Regions from separate parts of the Homo sapiens genome. Here region 2 is linked to region 1. The links come from fine-mapping of genetic effects on gene expression. Tissue or cell type: whole blood. Region 1 holds a variant in brackets; the other region holds the start of a gene. All regions are shown on one strand. Distances are between the middles of the regions.

The links. PIP is the estimated chance that this variant, and not a neighbour inherited with it, causes the effect.
Region 2: it holds the start of ADORA2B, and the variant in region 1 is fine-mapped to the expression of ADORA2B in whole blood (TOPMed, PIP 0.93).

Annotation. Positions count from the first base shown.
Region 1 is chr17:15,860,521-15,868,626 of GRCh38, reverse strand. It overlaps a transcript of ADORA2B not described here. Among named protein-coding and RNA genes, the nearest start is that of LINC02087, 47 kb to the right of the region's middle. The variant C/T (reference allele first, on the strand shown) is at 3,773.
Region 2 is chr17:15,940,303-15,948,408 of GRCh38, reverse strand. It overlaps ADORA2B (adenosine A2b receptor), which reads right to left and starts at 3,279. Exons shown (of 2, transcript NM_000676.4): 1 at 2,826-3,279. The coding sequence starts at 3,160. RefSeq lists an enhancer at 2,462-3,276 and a silencer at 3,104-3,723.

The DNA.
Region 1 (8,106 bases):
TTTTTTTTTGTATTTTTAGTAGAGAACGGGGTTTCACTGTGTTAGCCAGGATGGTCTCGATCTCCTGACCTTGTTATCCGCCCGCCTCGGCCTCCCAAAGTGCTGGGATTACAGGCGTGAGCCACCACACCCGGCCATGAATAAACAATTTCTTATACAGAATACAAAAAGCACTAACCATTAGAGGAAAGACTGATAAATTAGACTTAATTAAAATTAAGAACTTTGTTCATCAAAAGAAGACATTTTTTTTTTTTAATTGATCATTCTTGGGTGTTTCTCGCAGAGGGGGATTTGGCAGGGTCACAGGACAATAGTGGAGGGAAGGTCAACAGATAAACAAGTGAACAAAGGTCTCTGGTTTTCCTAGGCAGAGGACCCTGCAGCCTTCCGCAGTGTTTGTGTCCCTGGGTGCTTGAGATTAGGGAGTGGTGATGACTCTTAACGAGCATGCTGCCTTCAAGCATCTGTTTAACAAAGCACATCTTGCACCGCCCTTAATCCATTCAACCCTGAGTGGACACAGCACATGTTTCAGAGAGCACAGGATTGGGGGTAAGGTCACAGATCAACAGGATCCCAAGGCAGAAGAATTTTTCTTAGTACAGAACAAAATGAAAAGTCTCCCATGTCTACCTCTTTCTACACAGACACGGCAACCATCCGATTTCTCAATCTTTTCCCCACCTTTCCCCCCTTTCTATTCCACAAAACCGCCATTGTCATCATGACCCGTTCTCAATGAGCTGTTGAGTACACCTCCCAGACAGGGTGGTGGCCGGGCAGAGGGGCTCCTCACTTCCCAGTAGGGGCGGCCGGGCAGAGGCGCCCCTCACCTCCCGGACGGGGCGGCTGGCCGGGCAGAGGGGCTCCTCACTTCCCAGTAGGGGCGGCCGGGCAGAGGCGCCCCTCACCTCCCGGACGGGGCGGCTGGCCGGGCGGGGGGCTGACCTCCCCACCTCCCTCCCGGATGGGGCGGCTGGCTGGGCGGCGGGCTGACCCCCCCGCCTCCCTTCCCGACGGGGTGGCTGGCCGGGCGGGGGGCTGACCCCCGCCTCCCTCCCGGACGGGGTGGCTGCCGGGCGGAGACGCTCCTCACTTCCCAGACAGAGTGGCCGCCGGGCAGAGGGGCTCCTCACTTCTCAGACGGGGCGGTTGCCAGGCAGAGGGTCTCCTCACTTCTCAGATGGGGCGGCCGGGCAGAGACACTCCTCACATCCCAGATGGGGCGGCAGAGCAGAGGAGCTCCCCACATCTCAGACGATGGGCGGCCTGGCAGAGACGCTCCTCACTTCATAGATGGGATGGCGGCCGGGCAGAGATGCTCCTCACTTTCCAGACTGGGCAGCCAGGCAGAGAGGCTCCTCACATCCCAGACAATGGGCGGCCAGGCAGAGATGCTCCTCACTTCCCAGACGGGGTGGCGGCCGGGCAGAGGCTGCAATCTCGGCACTTTGGGGGGCCAAGGCAGGCAGCTGGGAGGTGGAGGTTGTAGCGAGCCGAGATCACGCCACTGCACTCCAGCCTGGGCACCATTGAGCACTGAGTGAACGCGACTCCGTCTGCCATCCCGGCACCTCGGGAGGCCGAGGCTGGCGGATCACTCGCAGTTAGGAGCTGGAGACCAGCCCGGCCAACACATCGAAACCCCGTCTCCACCAAAAAAATACGAAAACCAGTCAGGCGTGGCGGCGCGCGCCTGCAATCGCAGGCACTCGGCAGGCTGAGGCAGGAGAATCCGGCAGGGAGGTTGCAGTGAGCTGAGATGGCAGCAGTACAGTCCAGCTTTGGCTCGGCATCAGAGGGAGACTGTGGAAAGAGAGGCAGAGGGTCCAGCTTTGGCTCGGCATCAGAGGGAGACTGTGGAAAGAGAGGCAGCGGCAGAGGCAGAGGCAGCGGCAGCGGCAGAGGCAGCGGCAGCGGCAGAGGCAGAGGCAGAGGGAGAGCCAAAAGAAGAAAATTTAAGGCACACTGGAAGAAGGTATTTGCCATATATGTATTTGACAAAGGACTTACATGGAGAATATATAAAGAATTCTTAAAAGCAATAAGGAAGAGAATGACATCTGATTCTTAAAATGGACAAAAGTTCATATGCTGTTTACAGAGCCAATACCCCCGCTCCCCACCACCAAACAAACAAAGTGGGCAAAAAACCTGAGCAGGTGCATCCCAAAAGGGACTATCCACATGGCCAATTTGCATATGAAAAGGTGCTCAATCTCCACTGCCAAAAGAAAAATGCAAATCAAAACCTCAATGAGACACTACTACACATTACCCACATGACCTCCAGTAAAAAGACTGATGCTACCAAGTGTTGATGAAAATGCACAGAAATTGACCTCTCATAAATTGCTGAAAAGACATAAATTATACAAATATTTCAGGCATCTGTTTGGTACTATCCTAGAATGTATGCATACCCTAAGGCCCAGGAATTCCATTCTGAAGGATGTAACCAACAGGAACAAGCACATATGTGTTTCAAGAGACATCGACAAGAACATAACAGCGCTATTCACCTTAGCCCCAAACTGGACTTGACTCAACGATCTATCAATAATAGAATGGGTAACTAAATAATGCTATAATCCTACAATGGGTTACTAAATGGTGAAGAAAATGAACAAATTACAGTATAGGTGACAACATGAATAAATCTCACTGATTCAATACTGTGTAAAAAAAAGCTCCCCTCCCTCTGTCTCTGTACAGGGGAGCCTCCATTTTCTGCCTTCTCCCATCCTTCTTGCCTATTAAACTTTCCGCTCCCTAAAACCAAAAAAAAAAAAAGATACATGCAAAATTACATAGTTTTTAAAATTCCATTTATAATAAAATTCAAATGCAAGCAATACTAACATAATATTCAGGGCTGCATACTTTTGTGAAAATCCATAAGGAGAATAATTGAGGACAATGGTTATCTTAGGGAGTAGTGAGGGGTTATGATGGGAAAGTTGTAGGAAAGGTCTGTGGGAGCTGGCGATGCTCTTCTTCTGGATGCGAGTGGTGACTGTGTGACTTTTCACTTCCTCATAGTTCAAGAGACTATCATTTGAGGCCAGGAGTGGTGGCTCATGCCTGTAATCCCAGGACTTTGGGAGGCTGAGGTAGGTGGATCACCTGAGGACAGGAGTTTGAGACCAGCCTGGCCAACACGGTGAAACCCCATCTCTAGTAACAATACAAAAATTAACCAGGTGTGGTGGCTCACGACTGTAATCCCAGCTACTCCGGAGGTCGAGGCAGGAGAATTGCTTGAACCCGGGAGGCAGAGGTTGCAGTGAGCCGAGATCACGCCACTGCACTCCAGCCTGGGCAACAGAATGAGACTCCGTCTCTTAAACAACAACAACAAAAAAAACACTATAGTTTATATTTTGTGCATTTTTATCTTTGTGTATAGTGTTTCACACGCACAAAAAACTTAAACTTATACCAGGTATTAATTCCTTTTCTGAACAGAAAACAGATACTGTCCTAGTAAACAAAAACTCTTTAAACTAAATGCAAACAACTCTGAAAGCAACAGAAAGAAAATATTTGGAGAAGTTTTGGAGGCTCATTTATGTAGGGCCTTTATATGAATTAGGCAAAGCACTCTTCTTTGGGAGTGTAATTTAGCAAAAGCTGTCTCCTTGGGTGGAGGCCCCACTACAGCATTCTTTCATGCATTCCCACTGATCACAAAACCCACACCACTACCTCACTGATGCCATACCCACTAACAGTCACGCAAAGAAAACAGCCATTCTATATTGTTCTT[C/T]GGTGCTCTCATAATGTTTAACCTTGCCTTTTACTTAAAGGATTACAGGAACTGGCCTTAGGAGATCCAAAATATCCAACCAAGGTTGCAAGTATCCCACCTCAGGAAGGAATGCTAAACAACTGATTCATACAGCCTTGCTGCCACTAACCAGAGCACCAGATGGCCCATTACTCAAGACAACCATTGCCAGCAGATAAGCCGACCCATGTCCCCTCCCCCTCACGTTCTCTACCCTGCCCAGCCCACATTCCCTACCTTGACATCAATTTCCGCACATTGCCTAATAAAAGAAATCCCTATCAGCTCATTTCAGGGAGTCAGCCAGAGAATCCTCCCTCTCCTGTGCTTCCTCCCTTGTGCCTGGGCATATGCTCCAATAAAGCCTTGCTAGGAAAACTCTTTTGGCCTGGTGAGAATTTCTATTGCATCAAGAGCCTAAGAACCCATGATCGGTAACACTTTGAGCAAAGGAAAAGGTCCCCCTTCCCTAGGGAGATGCAGCTCTGCATACACCCATATGTTTGGTGGGAGTGCAAACTGGCTTCCCGTTGCATATGCCTCTCTGTCTAGGAGAACAGAAAGATGATAATTACATGCATATTGGTCCACCAAGCACAGGCACACATGGAACATGTACTGGCACAGGCCTACTACTGCCCAGGGCTGGTGGAAGCTGGCTGACATTGTCCCTTACCATGTAACCTTCTGTCTTCTTCTGGTACCATTTCAGTACAGCATTGCACTTGAAACCGCCATATTCCCGGGCCAAGGCCACCAGAGGGTTTCTTCTTTCCACACTGGTTAGAGAGAAGAGCACGTTAAGGAGAAGATGCTAATGTTTAGAATCCTCAAATTCACAAGAACTAAATACCTACTTTAGAAAAGCAAATGTCTGGTTTATTCAGCCAGAATCTGAAGAAACAACCACATTAGTTACATTAATAATGTATTTGATGTCTCACAGTGTGAAATAAACATGAAATTGTGCCTCCTGACTGTCATGAGTCTGGGGAGAGTTTTGCTACATTTTGTTTTAAAATCCATCTGTTGCTCATCCATCTAGTCTTTTATTTGTGTAAATATAATTCAGGCTAGAACTTTAATTCAAACTCATTTGAATTAAGGGTATCTATACAAAAGCATTCTACAGGTTTCAAGACTACATCAGTATCTAAATAACATTTAAAAGGTAGAGACGGGCACAGCACAGTGGCTCACGCCTGTAATCCCAGCACTTTGGAAAGCTGAGGCAGGAGGATTACCTGAGCCCAGGAGCTTGAAACCAGCCTGAGAAACATAGTGAGACCTCAACTCTGAAATAAATAAATAAATAAATAAATAAGCTGGGCATGGTAGCGCACACCTGTAGTCCCAGCTATTCAGGAGGCTGAGGTGGGAGGACTGCTTGAGGCCAGGAGTTCAAGGATGTAGTGAATTATGATTATACCACTGCACTCCATCCTGGGCAACAGAGCGAGACCCCCATCTCTAAAAAATAAAAAAAAATTTTTCAAGGTATATTGGAAGGGCATATTAAAAATACCAGATATCCTGCCATTGCTTTATCTCAATGAGATAAATGTAAAATTGAAATAAATTGATTTTACTAATTTAACTTTTCACTATGAAAGATAAAATATCAGAAGCATATTAATATACCCATAGCCTTCCTGTATGCATTTCTGGTATAATGAAAAGGAGAATTTTAGAATAGCACTAATTCTGGTTTTTAAAACCTCTTTTGATTATTTAAATCTCGCGCACATAAACAGGACAATATGTAATATCTGGGGCTTTAAATTAAACCTCTAAAATATATGACTTCATCTATTTGGGTGCAAATATAGGCTACATCCAAAGGTATAACAATAAGTCCTAGCTTATTCATTCAGACTTTCATAAATCCTTTGATAGTACCCTTATTAGTAATGATAATATGTATTAAAAAGCTACTACTAGCTACTTAGGAGGCTGACGCAGGAGAACTGCTTGAACCCGAGGCAGAGGTTGCAGTGAGACTCTGTCTCCCAAAAAAAAAAAAAAAAGCTATTACTCCAAAAGTAGCCGATTTTGTATACTGATAAATAAACAATACGTTCATATTGTATATGAATGAGCATACTCATTCGTAAGTTTTACTGAGTGAAATGTTATGTGTGTTGCACAATGCAAGGGGCTGGGAGAGATACCAAAGGTAAGCTGAACATTTACTGTCCACTAAATTACAGCATAAATGGAGATTAAGGCATATATTGTGCAGAAGTTATCCACACCACAAAGCAGTACAGAAATTAAACACCTGAAATAGCGTAAGACACCAAAGTCAAAGAAGGGAGATGTTGGCCAGGCATGGAGGCTCACACCTGCAATCCCAGCGTTTTGGGAGGCTGAAGTGGGCAGATCAGGAGTTTGAGACCAGCCTAGCCAAAATGGTGAAATCCTGTCTCTACTAAAAAAAATACAAAAATTAGCTGGGTGTCATGGTGCATGCCTTTATAATCCCAGCTACTCAGGAGGCTGAGGCATGAGAATCACTTGGACCCAGGAGGCAGAGGTTGCAGTGAGCCCAGATCACGCCACTGTACTCCAGCCTTGGTGACAGAGTGAGGATCTGTCTCAAAAAAAAAAAAAAAAAAAAAAGAAAAGAAAAGAAAAGAAAAAGAAAAAAAAAAGGGAGAAGGGAGCTGTCAATGCTGCCAGGTGTTAGCTATAACTTCATGAAAGTTTTGACCTTTAAATAAAGAGAACAGTATTTAGACTGTGAAAGGACAAAAGGAGGACAATTCAAGTTAGAACCTTATACACAAAGACTTACACTCAAATATGCTTGTGCACTATTGCTAAGGCACGGACTAAAACAGGTTCAGGTGGAGGGAGAGGCTGGGCCATTCTGGCAGGTGGGCAGGGGTGGTGCTAAGTAGTGGAGCATCTAGAAGATCAGGATGAGGAGTGCAGAGGACAGAGTCATGGGAAATTTCTGCAAGGTCTGCAGCAGGATGTGCTCAGTGCTTCAGAAGATTAACCAACATGAAGAAGCAGGAAGACATGAGAGAGGAAACAGTTGAAAGAGGTTTGCTGTAACCTGGGTGACCAGGGGCACTGAAAAGGGAGGAGGTGACAGAGGTGTGGCAGCAAAGACCACCTCTTAGGGACCACCCTGTTGGTCTTGCAGTCCTGCCCTCTGCCAAGCCCTCCTTCACATCCCTGCCAAAGTCCTCCTTAAACACTGATTTCAAAATGCCTCTCTAATCCTTACATGCCACTGTTTTCTGATGACTCCTCCTTAAAATATGGGTCCAATCTCACTGTACCATAACTCAAAAACAGGAATAAAATCCCACAAACTTGGTGGCTCCTCAGTGCTTTATCAAAATAAAGCACAAACCTCTTCCTTAGCAATGAAGATTTGCAATATGGCTCCAACCTGCCTTCCAGCTGGAATGTCCTAGTCACCTATCCATCCACCCAACAAATACTGACAGAGAGCCTACCATGCATATATATGGCAGAGTCCCTGGCCTTAGGAAGCCCAGTCTAGTCCAGACACACATTACCACCCCATTCCCTGAACTTCTACTTCTCTCTACATTTCTTATGCCAACTAACAACTCTCAAGTACTTTGCCTATTTAGTATTGTCTTTTTACAGCTCTTAATTTAATCTTGCACACTACTTACTGTCCAGCATCCTCCTTTTAAACTCACTGAAGACGGGCACTGCATCTTAATTATTTTCATGCAGCAAGTATTTGTCGAAGTCAATTGTCCAGGAGGACAAAACAGAAGGAACAATCAAAGCTGATCAGCCCTATGTTTTTCTGATTTCTTACTGTTTGAGACATGATACCTGAAACTGCTTCGTGGTTCCCTCTTTCTTGGGGCCACTTCCACTTTCCCTCTGGTGGAGGTGCTCAGCAGTCTCATGTCCCCAAAGTCCAGAGAGTGGGGGTCTGCTGAGTGACTCCAGCAAGGAACTCTTGCAGAGGTGGGGGTCTGGCTTCAGTTCCTAGGTCCTTCCCTTTCAAAGATCGGTGGGAACGACCACATAATCACCTATTCCTGAAGAAGAGGCTCTTGATTGCCATCAAACATCATTCTCCAGTACAACACAGTTCTCATTTTATCCTCAAGTATAAACATATATATGCTTCTGATGTAATGAAAATGCAATAGGGACGTGGATTCTCCAGGCAGGACCACCACTTCCTTTATAGGATCTATATGCAAATCAACCCTTGTTCAAAAATTATTGTGAATTTCAAGACGATGTCATCAGAGCATTAAACCCAGCATGCACCTTATGAAATTGCCCTTACCTGGGGAAAGACATTA
Region 2 (8,106 bases), 80 kb before region 1:
GCCCCCCGCCGCCAGGGCCCAACATCAGGAATTGTCTATGGACTTGAACCAGAGGCAATGGACTTCTGTTTGTGGCCAGCCCTGTCCTGAAGGCAAAGGGCCAGGCCAAGGGCGTCATATTTGTCCCTGGCATTCCCTCCGGCTCCCCTCCCTTCTACACTGTCATCTGTCACATCAGTAAACACCTTGGCAATGCGGTGGCAGGTGGGGGCTGTGGTCTCTGCGGCCACAGGCCTCACACTTGGAGCCCTCGAACCGGGAGGAACTGGGGGTAGGTCCCAGGACTGTCCTAGCCTAAGCCTTTAGCCCTCACTCCCTGCACCTCACCCTCCTTATTGCTTGGCTTCAAAGGGGACACACCTCCTCCCAAACAGGGCACTTCCAACTTTACTCTCACCTGGAGTTCCACAACCCCAGGAAGGCCTCAGGGCCAAGTCAGTGCTTGGGGCGCCATGCACCCAGCCTGTGTCAGTCAAGTGAGGAAAGCTTCAGGCCCTGAATCTAGGAGGATTCTTAGATCGCTGGACCCAAATGTCCCTGGTTAAAGATCCCACTGCTGGAATCCCCTCGACACCCACTCCAGAGATTCTGATTCAGTACAACCAGGTGAGGCCCTGTAATCTGTATTTTAACCTCTTCCCAAGGGGCCATGAACTGCTAGGCCAGCTGAGGGAAGGCCTGCCCCAGGCACCAGCCCCTGAGAGGGAAGCCCTGGGGGCCCTAGTACACCTCTCCCACCCACCAGGGTTGGGGTGGTGCTGTGGCCAGGTCAGACGACTAACTCTGGGGCAGGGAGCTGGGGACTGCCTGTGCACCTCTTCCAGACCTCCAAGCTCTGGACGGGCCAGGAAGGCAGGATGGGGCGAGCCTCAGTGTTCTTCCCTCCTGCCCTTGGCAATGCAAAGAAGCTCAGGGCCTGTGATTCACAGCACTTTCCCCTTAACACACCCACACCCATTTTTTTCAAGACCTCACCCAGCACAAACCAGGACAAGAAGGAACAGATTTAAACTTTCATGGAACTTCCTGCTCCCTGTGGCCTGGGAGATTGTTCCACTAACTCCTCTCTGGGTCTCTGGTCTCTGCCAGGGCAAGTCCAAGGGGTTTCCATTAGATGGACAACTCAGGCTGGGGCTTGTGACTGCTCTGCTGGATGCAAAACATCCAAAATGCCATCAAGTAACAACGATGACACCAAAAGGCAGGGAAGGGATCCAGAAGAGAGAGAAGAAACTGCTGTCCTCCCTAAGCCTTGGAAATCCCTGGGCTGTCACACCTGATGGGAGACATAAGGCCTCCTGGTCCAACAGCACGGGCAGCAGCACATGGAGTGGCCAGACACCCACATAAGGCTCACAGCCCTCCCAAGCAGGAGGCTCCTGTTCCTGCTGGGACCCACGAAACAACCTGCAAGGACCAGGCCCAACACATCTGCCTACTCAAATGGCCTCTGGGAGCATTCTCCGGCTCCATTCCCACAAACACATTCCCCTACAACCACCAGTTTACTGCAGGCAGGCTCCTCCTCCCAAAACAGCAGAGCACTTTTCTCCCTGACTCCTAAACACGGTGCCACACATGGCCTTGCAGAGTGGCCTGATGGCATGGGTGGGGACACGGTGCCAGCTGTGAGTTCAAGCCCCGGCTCTGACACCCATCCCTGATACACCATCCTGGGCAAGACTCCAACCTCCCTGGGCCATCACCCCTCCTCTACGAGATGAAGGTTACAGCACCCGTCCTCTGGTACTACTGCAAGGACTGCTGGGGACACGTTTATTATAAACTGTCTGCACAGAGTTGGCACCCAATAAATGAATTCCTTCCCTTCCTTCCTACTCTGTGATTTAGTTTCCCTGTCTCAGCTCCAAATTTAAAGAGATCTCAAGCTCTCCTCAGAAATGCCAAAGTGGCCCAGGCACCAAAGACAGAGAATAAATACTTTCAACAAACTCTCAATGTTGAAGTCATCAGCTCCAACTGGGAATCCACTCTGGTCGCTGGCTGACTCCATCCCCTGAATCCTAGATTTTCTCAGTGTGGGAGAAAGAGTGGACAAGTAAGTTCGCCACCATTTTCTGCACTTCTCAGCCCGCTCCCAACAGGGCAGCAGGAGATAAATAGTTACACAAGGGCAGTGAGGCTGTAAGGCCGTTTGCCAGACACGAGGAAGCATTGTAACTCCTTTTAAAAGTATATAATCTGAGTCCGTAGCGTTCCCCAAAGTTAACGGACACCTTCCCCTGGGATGGGCCGGGCCGCCTCTCCGCAGCAGACACGTTCTGAAGCTGGCTCATGCGTGTCCATTCTGACGGTGCGAATGCCCAGCGTCCAAAGTTGCCTTGCCCTTAGTGGGAACCTCCCGGGCCTCCGGGAGCCGCAGCACTCACGGGACTGCCGCTGCACCGCCGCTGCGGGCGAGTGTTAGGAACGGCCTTCGTGGCAGGAGTGGAGATGTGATCACCAAAACTCCCGCGCCCCGGGCTCCACCCGCCCACGGGGGTGACGCTTTCCCCGGGGGTGACGCTTTCCCCGGGGTTTCCACGGCGCCTCCCCGGGCGCCGGGGACCGCACTCCCCGGACCCCCTAGAGCTGTCCCTACGCAGATCTCCTTAGAGCGACGCGCATCTGGGATGTCTTGGGTGCCCGGGCGCACTGGTCTAGCGTTGCGGGGTGGCCAGGCTGGGAACCAGCCCTCCAAGCGCCCCGCGCGCCCCCAGCCTGGCCCGTCTGGGGCCCCCGAGGGAGGAACCCCGGCCTGGAGAAGACGACCCATTTCGGAGCTCCGACGGGGCCCCGAGTTCGGGCGACGCCGAGCGCCTCACCTGAGCGGGACACAGATGGCCAGGTATCTGTCGACTGCCACGGCCAGAAGGCTGAAGATGGAGCTCTGCGTGAGCACCAGCACGAAGCAGGCGAGGAAGAGGCAGCCGTAGAAGTCAGTGCAGAAGCCCAGGCTGATGGTGATGGCAAAGGGGATGGCGAAGAGCCCCACGGCCACGTCGGCCGCAGCCAGGGACACCAGGAAGTAGTTGGTGGGCGTCTGCAGAGTGTTCGCCGTGCCCACCGCGGCGCACACCAGCACGTTGCCCGCCACCGAAAGCGCGGCGATGACCAGCTCCAGCGCCACGTACAGCGCGTCCTGTGTCTCCAGCAGCATGGCCGGGCCAGCTGGGCCCCGGGCGCCCCCTACCGAAGGCGCGCCGGGCGAGGGGCAGCCGCGTGAGACCCGCCGGGCATGGCCATAGCGCCCGGACCGCGCCTCCGCCTGCCGCTTCTGAGCCTCGGGGCTGGGGCGCTGGTGGCCGGGACCCACGGGTCGGGGCCCCCCGCGGCCAAGAGGCGGCACCCATTGGCCCGCGCGCCCGCCCGTCTCGGGCTGGGCGGAGCACCACCCACTCGCCCGAGCCCAAAGTTCGCGCCCGCGCGGGGCCCCTCCGGTCCAGGCGCCGTGCCGCGTCTTGGTGGCGGCGGATAACTAACAAATTGCCCCAACTTCCCGTCACGCTCGAGCTCGGAGGCTGTGTCCCAGTGCTCGCACTGCCTTCCAGTCCGGGCGACTCCTGGGATGGGGCCGGGCTCTGCCCGGGGCGCCAGCAGGTCCCAGGAGCCGCCGCGAGAGGACCCCCCAGGGCCGCGCAACCCCGGGCGGGGCGAGCTCACTCCAGGCTAACCCTGCGCACCCCGGGCAGGCCGACTGGATGGGGGGCTGCCGGGCAGGCAGGGAGCCGAGGCCGCAGTCCCCGCTCGTGCAGCAGTCTCGGGCAGCGCAGCACCACCGGAGCTGTCTCCAGGCTGCGGGGCCGGACTGCAAGGAGCCCTCGGGGGCTGCAGCCCCCTCCGGCCGCCTCCCAGCGAGGCTCAGCGCTGTTCTCCACCCTCGCCCGCGCCACTGCCCCTACGGCCCCGCTCTGCCTTCTACCTTAAGACAAGCTCGTGGCCGTCCCATCCTCGTCCACCGCCCGAAAATACCAGTGTTCCCCGGGCCCTCTTTTTTCTTTCCTTCACACTCACCCTGGATCGGCACAGGCTCCCGAGGCCTCCCACGTGGCCCTCACACCCTTAACTCCCAAATCTCTTGCTTCAGCCCTAACAGCCTCCTGAGGGCCAGATCCTAACACCCCACTGCCGACTCTCGCCAGGAGAGAGACTGGTGCCCCCAAATCCAACAAGACCAAAACCAAGCTCATCTCTAATTCTCCCCAAACCTGTGCTGCCGCCTTTTCCTGGGACCCTGTTCGTTATTGACCTGGCAACCCTCACCCACCCTAGGAAGTTTGCTGACACCCTGAGCCTTCGCCTTTCTCCACGTCCCAATGATCAGCAGTGCTGCTGGTTCTGCTTCCAGAGACTTGCTTCCTTTTACCCCCAAAGTCCTGCCCCGAGTCCCTCCTCACCACCTGCTTCTACCATCCCTCCCTCTCTGCCTGTGGGTCCTCAGCTTCTGCAGCCCTCACCAACACCATTGTTCTAGAGCACTCCTGGCCACGCTATTTCACCACCCGAAAGCCTTTGCTGACAGTCACCAAAGAGGATGGGTAAGGAGATTTTCCAGCAACAGGAAAAGATGCTTGTAAAATCATGTAAAGCAAAAATCAAAACATGGGGTGACTGCTAAAGGGTAAAGGATTTTGTAAAGGATTTTTTAGGGTGATAAAAATTTTCTCAATGTGGTGATGGTTGTACGGTTCTGTGGATATACCTCAATGCCACTGAACTGTACACTTGAAAGGCATGCATTGTGTGGCACATAAATTATATCTCAATGTAGCTGTAATGACGACAACATGGCTCACGCCTATAATCCCAAAACTTTGGGAGGCCAAGACAGGAGGAACATTTGAGGCCAGGAGTTCAAGACCAGCCTGGCCAATGTAGGGAGACCCCATCTCTAAACAAACAAATAAAAAATAAATCAGCCAGGCACGGTGGCAGGTGCCTGTAGTCCCAGCTACTTGGGAGGCTGAGGCAGGAGGATCCTTTGAGGCCAGGGGTTCGAGGCTGCAGTGAGCTGGGATCATGCCACTGCATTCCATCCAGGCTGGGCAAAAGAGGGAGACCCTGTCTCTAAAAAAAGACAAGAAGAAGAAAAACCCCTCTGCCCTCCACAGGCATAAACAGTCACATCTGCCCTTGCACCAACGAGGACAGCAAAATGTCAAAAACACACACAGTAGACCTCCTAGCTGGGTGGGATGATTACAGGGAATTTTTTTTTCTATTTCCCTTGAGGTTTTGTTACTTCCATAATGAAAACAGTTGATTTATATATCAAAATATTGGCAAGCCCACACATTCCGTGTCCTGGTCACGTGAGTTCTGGAATCACCTGCTCCACCAATCACGTTCCCACAGCAGTTGACACAAACTTCTGCTGCCACACAGAAGGCCAGAGAGATCAGGCAGCTCCTCCAATAGCACTTCCTTGGAGTGGCAGAGGGCAAAGGGTTAGAGGAGGCTTCCTGGGGTACTGGCTTTTACAGAGTGAGGGAGGCTTCACAGTGGGGTGGTTCCAGCTATACCAGGCAGAGGTGGTAGTTAGGAGTTTGCCCAGGGGTGCCATGCCCAGGAGAGTGAAGAGAAAAAGGCCTAGTGGAGAAGGCTCTGGCTGCCAGGCTGGAGAGCTGGGCCATCCTGCTGGGATGCCAGTCCGCAGAGGTCACAGGACGGGGCGGGGATGGTCAGAGCAATATCCAAAGGAGTGAGTGGAGATTTTGCAGAGGGAGAGGAGGCGAACGGTGTCTGGCTGGTTGCTATGAGTGGTTCCTGCACGCCCTGCAGCTGCTGGGCCTGGGCTCTGCTCTAGCATTTCCTGTGCCCAGAATCACCATTTCCCCTTTTCAGAGCCCAACCTCCATCAGGAAACCTTCCCTGAATCACCCAATGTATTAGGCCATTCTTACATTGCTATAGGGAAATATCTGAGACTGGGTAATTTACAAAGAAAAGAGGTTTATTTGGCTCACAGTTCTGCAGCCTGTAAACCATAGTGCCAGCATCTGCTTGGCTTCCAAGGGGCCTCAGGGAGCTTTACTAGTGGCAGAGGGTGAAGTGGGAGCAGGCATGTCACATGGGGAAAGCAGGAGCAAGAGGTGGGGGGAGGTGCCACACCTTTTTTAACAACCGGATCTAGTGAGAACTCACTCACTATCATGAGGACAGCACTAAAAAGGATGGCACTAAACCATTCATCAGAAACTGCTCCACTGCTTCCACTAGGCCCCACCTCCAACACTGGGGATTACATTTCAGCATGAGATTTGGGAGGACAGATTTCCAAACGATAGCACCCAAGTAGGAAGTCTCCAGCACAGGGCTGTGCCCTGTTCCCGTCTGTGTTGCAGTCCACTGAGTTTCAGGTCCCCGGTGTCCCTCACCAGCAAAGCTTTCCCTTCTCCGTCCTCTCCCCACCCCAGCCCCACCTGGTACCCTCTGACTCACACAACAACCCGCCCCTCTTCACAAAGTCTTTGTGAAATGAATCATACATTTTCCTGACTCCTTCAACCCCTGATCCACGCTAGGATTTGAGCTGGACTCACTGGGTCCATGGGGGTGCCAATTATTATTATTAAATATTATAATAATTATTATTAACAGGTTATTATTCAGGAAACACGAGGAGGAAGGGTGGAATCCGAAGAGAGTCATGGCATTTAGTCTTTTTTTTTTTTTTTTTTGAAACAAGAGTCTCACTCTGTCACTGAAGCTGTAGCACCATGGTGGGATCATAGCTTACTGCAGCCTCAACCTCCTGGGCTCAGGTGATCCTCCCACCCCAGCCTCCCAAGTGGCTAGGACTACAGGTGCACACCACCATGCCTGGTTAATTTGTAATGTTTTTGTAGAGACAGTGTCCCACTATGTTGCCCAGGCTGGTCTTGAACCCCTGGGCTCAAGCGATCCTCCCATCTCAGCCTCCCAAAGTGCCGGGATTACAAGTGTGAGCCACTACACCCAGCTGGTTTAGTCTTGAAAGCAATTGGTGTGCAGGGAGCAGAGCCCAGGTCTTAGCAACAGAGACTCCAGGTTTGATTCCCAGCTCTGCTGTTGATGTTGGACAAGTCAATTAATCTTTCTAAGCCCCTATTTCTTATGTATAAGATGGGATAACAATATCTACTTCACAGGGTCAGGCTAAAAAGGGGCAGGAGGAGCCATCTGCCATCTGACTACCTCTAGATCCTGACTCCTGGAAAACAACTGCAGTGATGAAAGCATCTGGTTAGGTTAGGACTAGAGCCCTAGAAACTCAAGTGGGACTTTCACTGGTGAAAGTGGAAGGGTATGCTTCCTGAACAAACTGACCCTCCGTGGACCTCTTCCAGACTGCTAGTACACATCGTCTCATCTCTCACCCCTCTCATCCTGCCTCAACTGCCAGAGCAGAATCCAGGTGACATACAGATGGTCCCAGAAATATCATGACAGGCCCAGGTTCTCTCTTTCTGCTCTGCCATCTTCAGTAGCTTTCCTCTTAGGCTTGTTGCCACATGGTTACAAAAAGGCTGCCACAGCTGCAAGCATTGCTTGCTCATGCAACCTCATTCAATGCAGAAGAGGGCTAGCCTCCCTACCGTTTATCATGAGGTGAAGTCGTGGATCACTTGCTACCCTACACCAACCATGAGCACAGGGAAATGGAATGATCATGCCTGGCTTTGACCAAATATGGTTTATTCCATGGGGAAGAGGAAGGGGCATACCTTTCCCAAATATGTTACCCTCCGAATAAACTTGGGGCTCTATAAAATAAAGAGGAAAAGAGTACAGTGCACATTGCCCCTCAGTGTCTGTGTGAGTGTCAGAGGGAAATTTTAAGTCTAACCTGAGAGCTCTAGGCCTCACTGGCTTGTACATAAAGATGGCACACATCAGGAGTCACAGCCTACATTTCAGAACAGCTGACTCTCTCCAGGCCTCAGCTCCCCACAAAATCCCTCAAGCACTTCTGGAAGTCAACAAGGGTTTCTTACTGTACCTCAACGTTCTACTTCTCTCCGACATCCAAGGACTTGTCACTGGTTCAAGCTTGGGACTGGCTCCGCTTTTCCTGAGGATGAGCCCAATCCCAGGAGGCTCCTCAGTCTCTGCTCAGTGAACGAC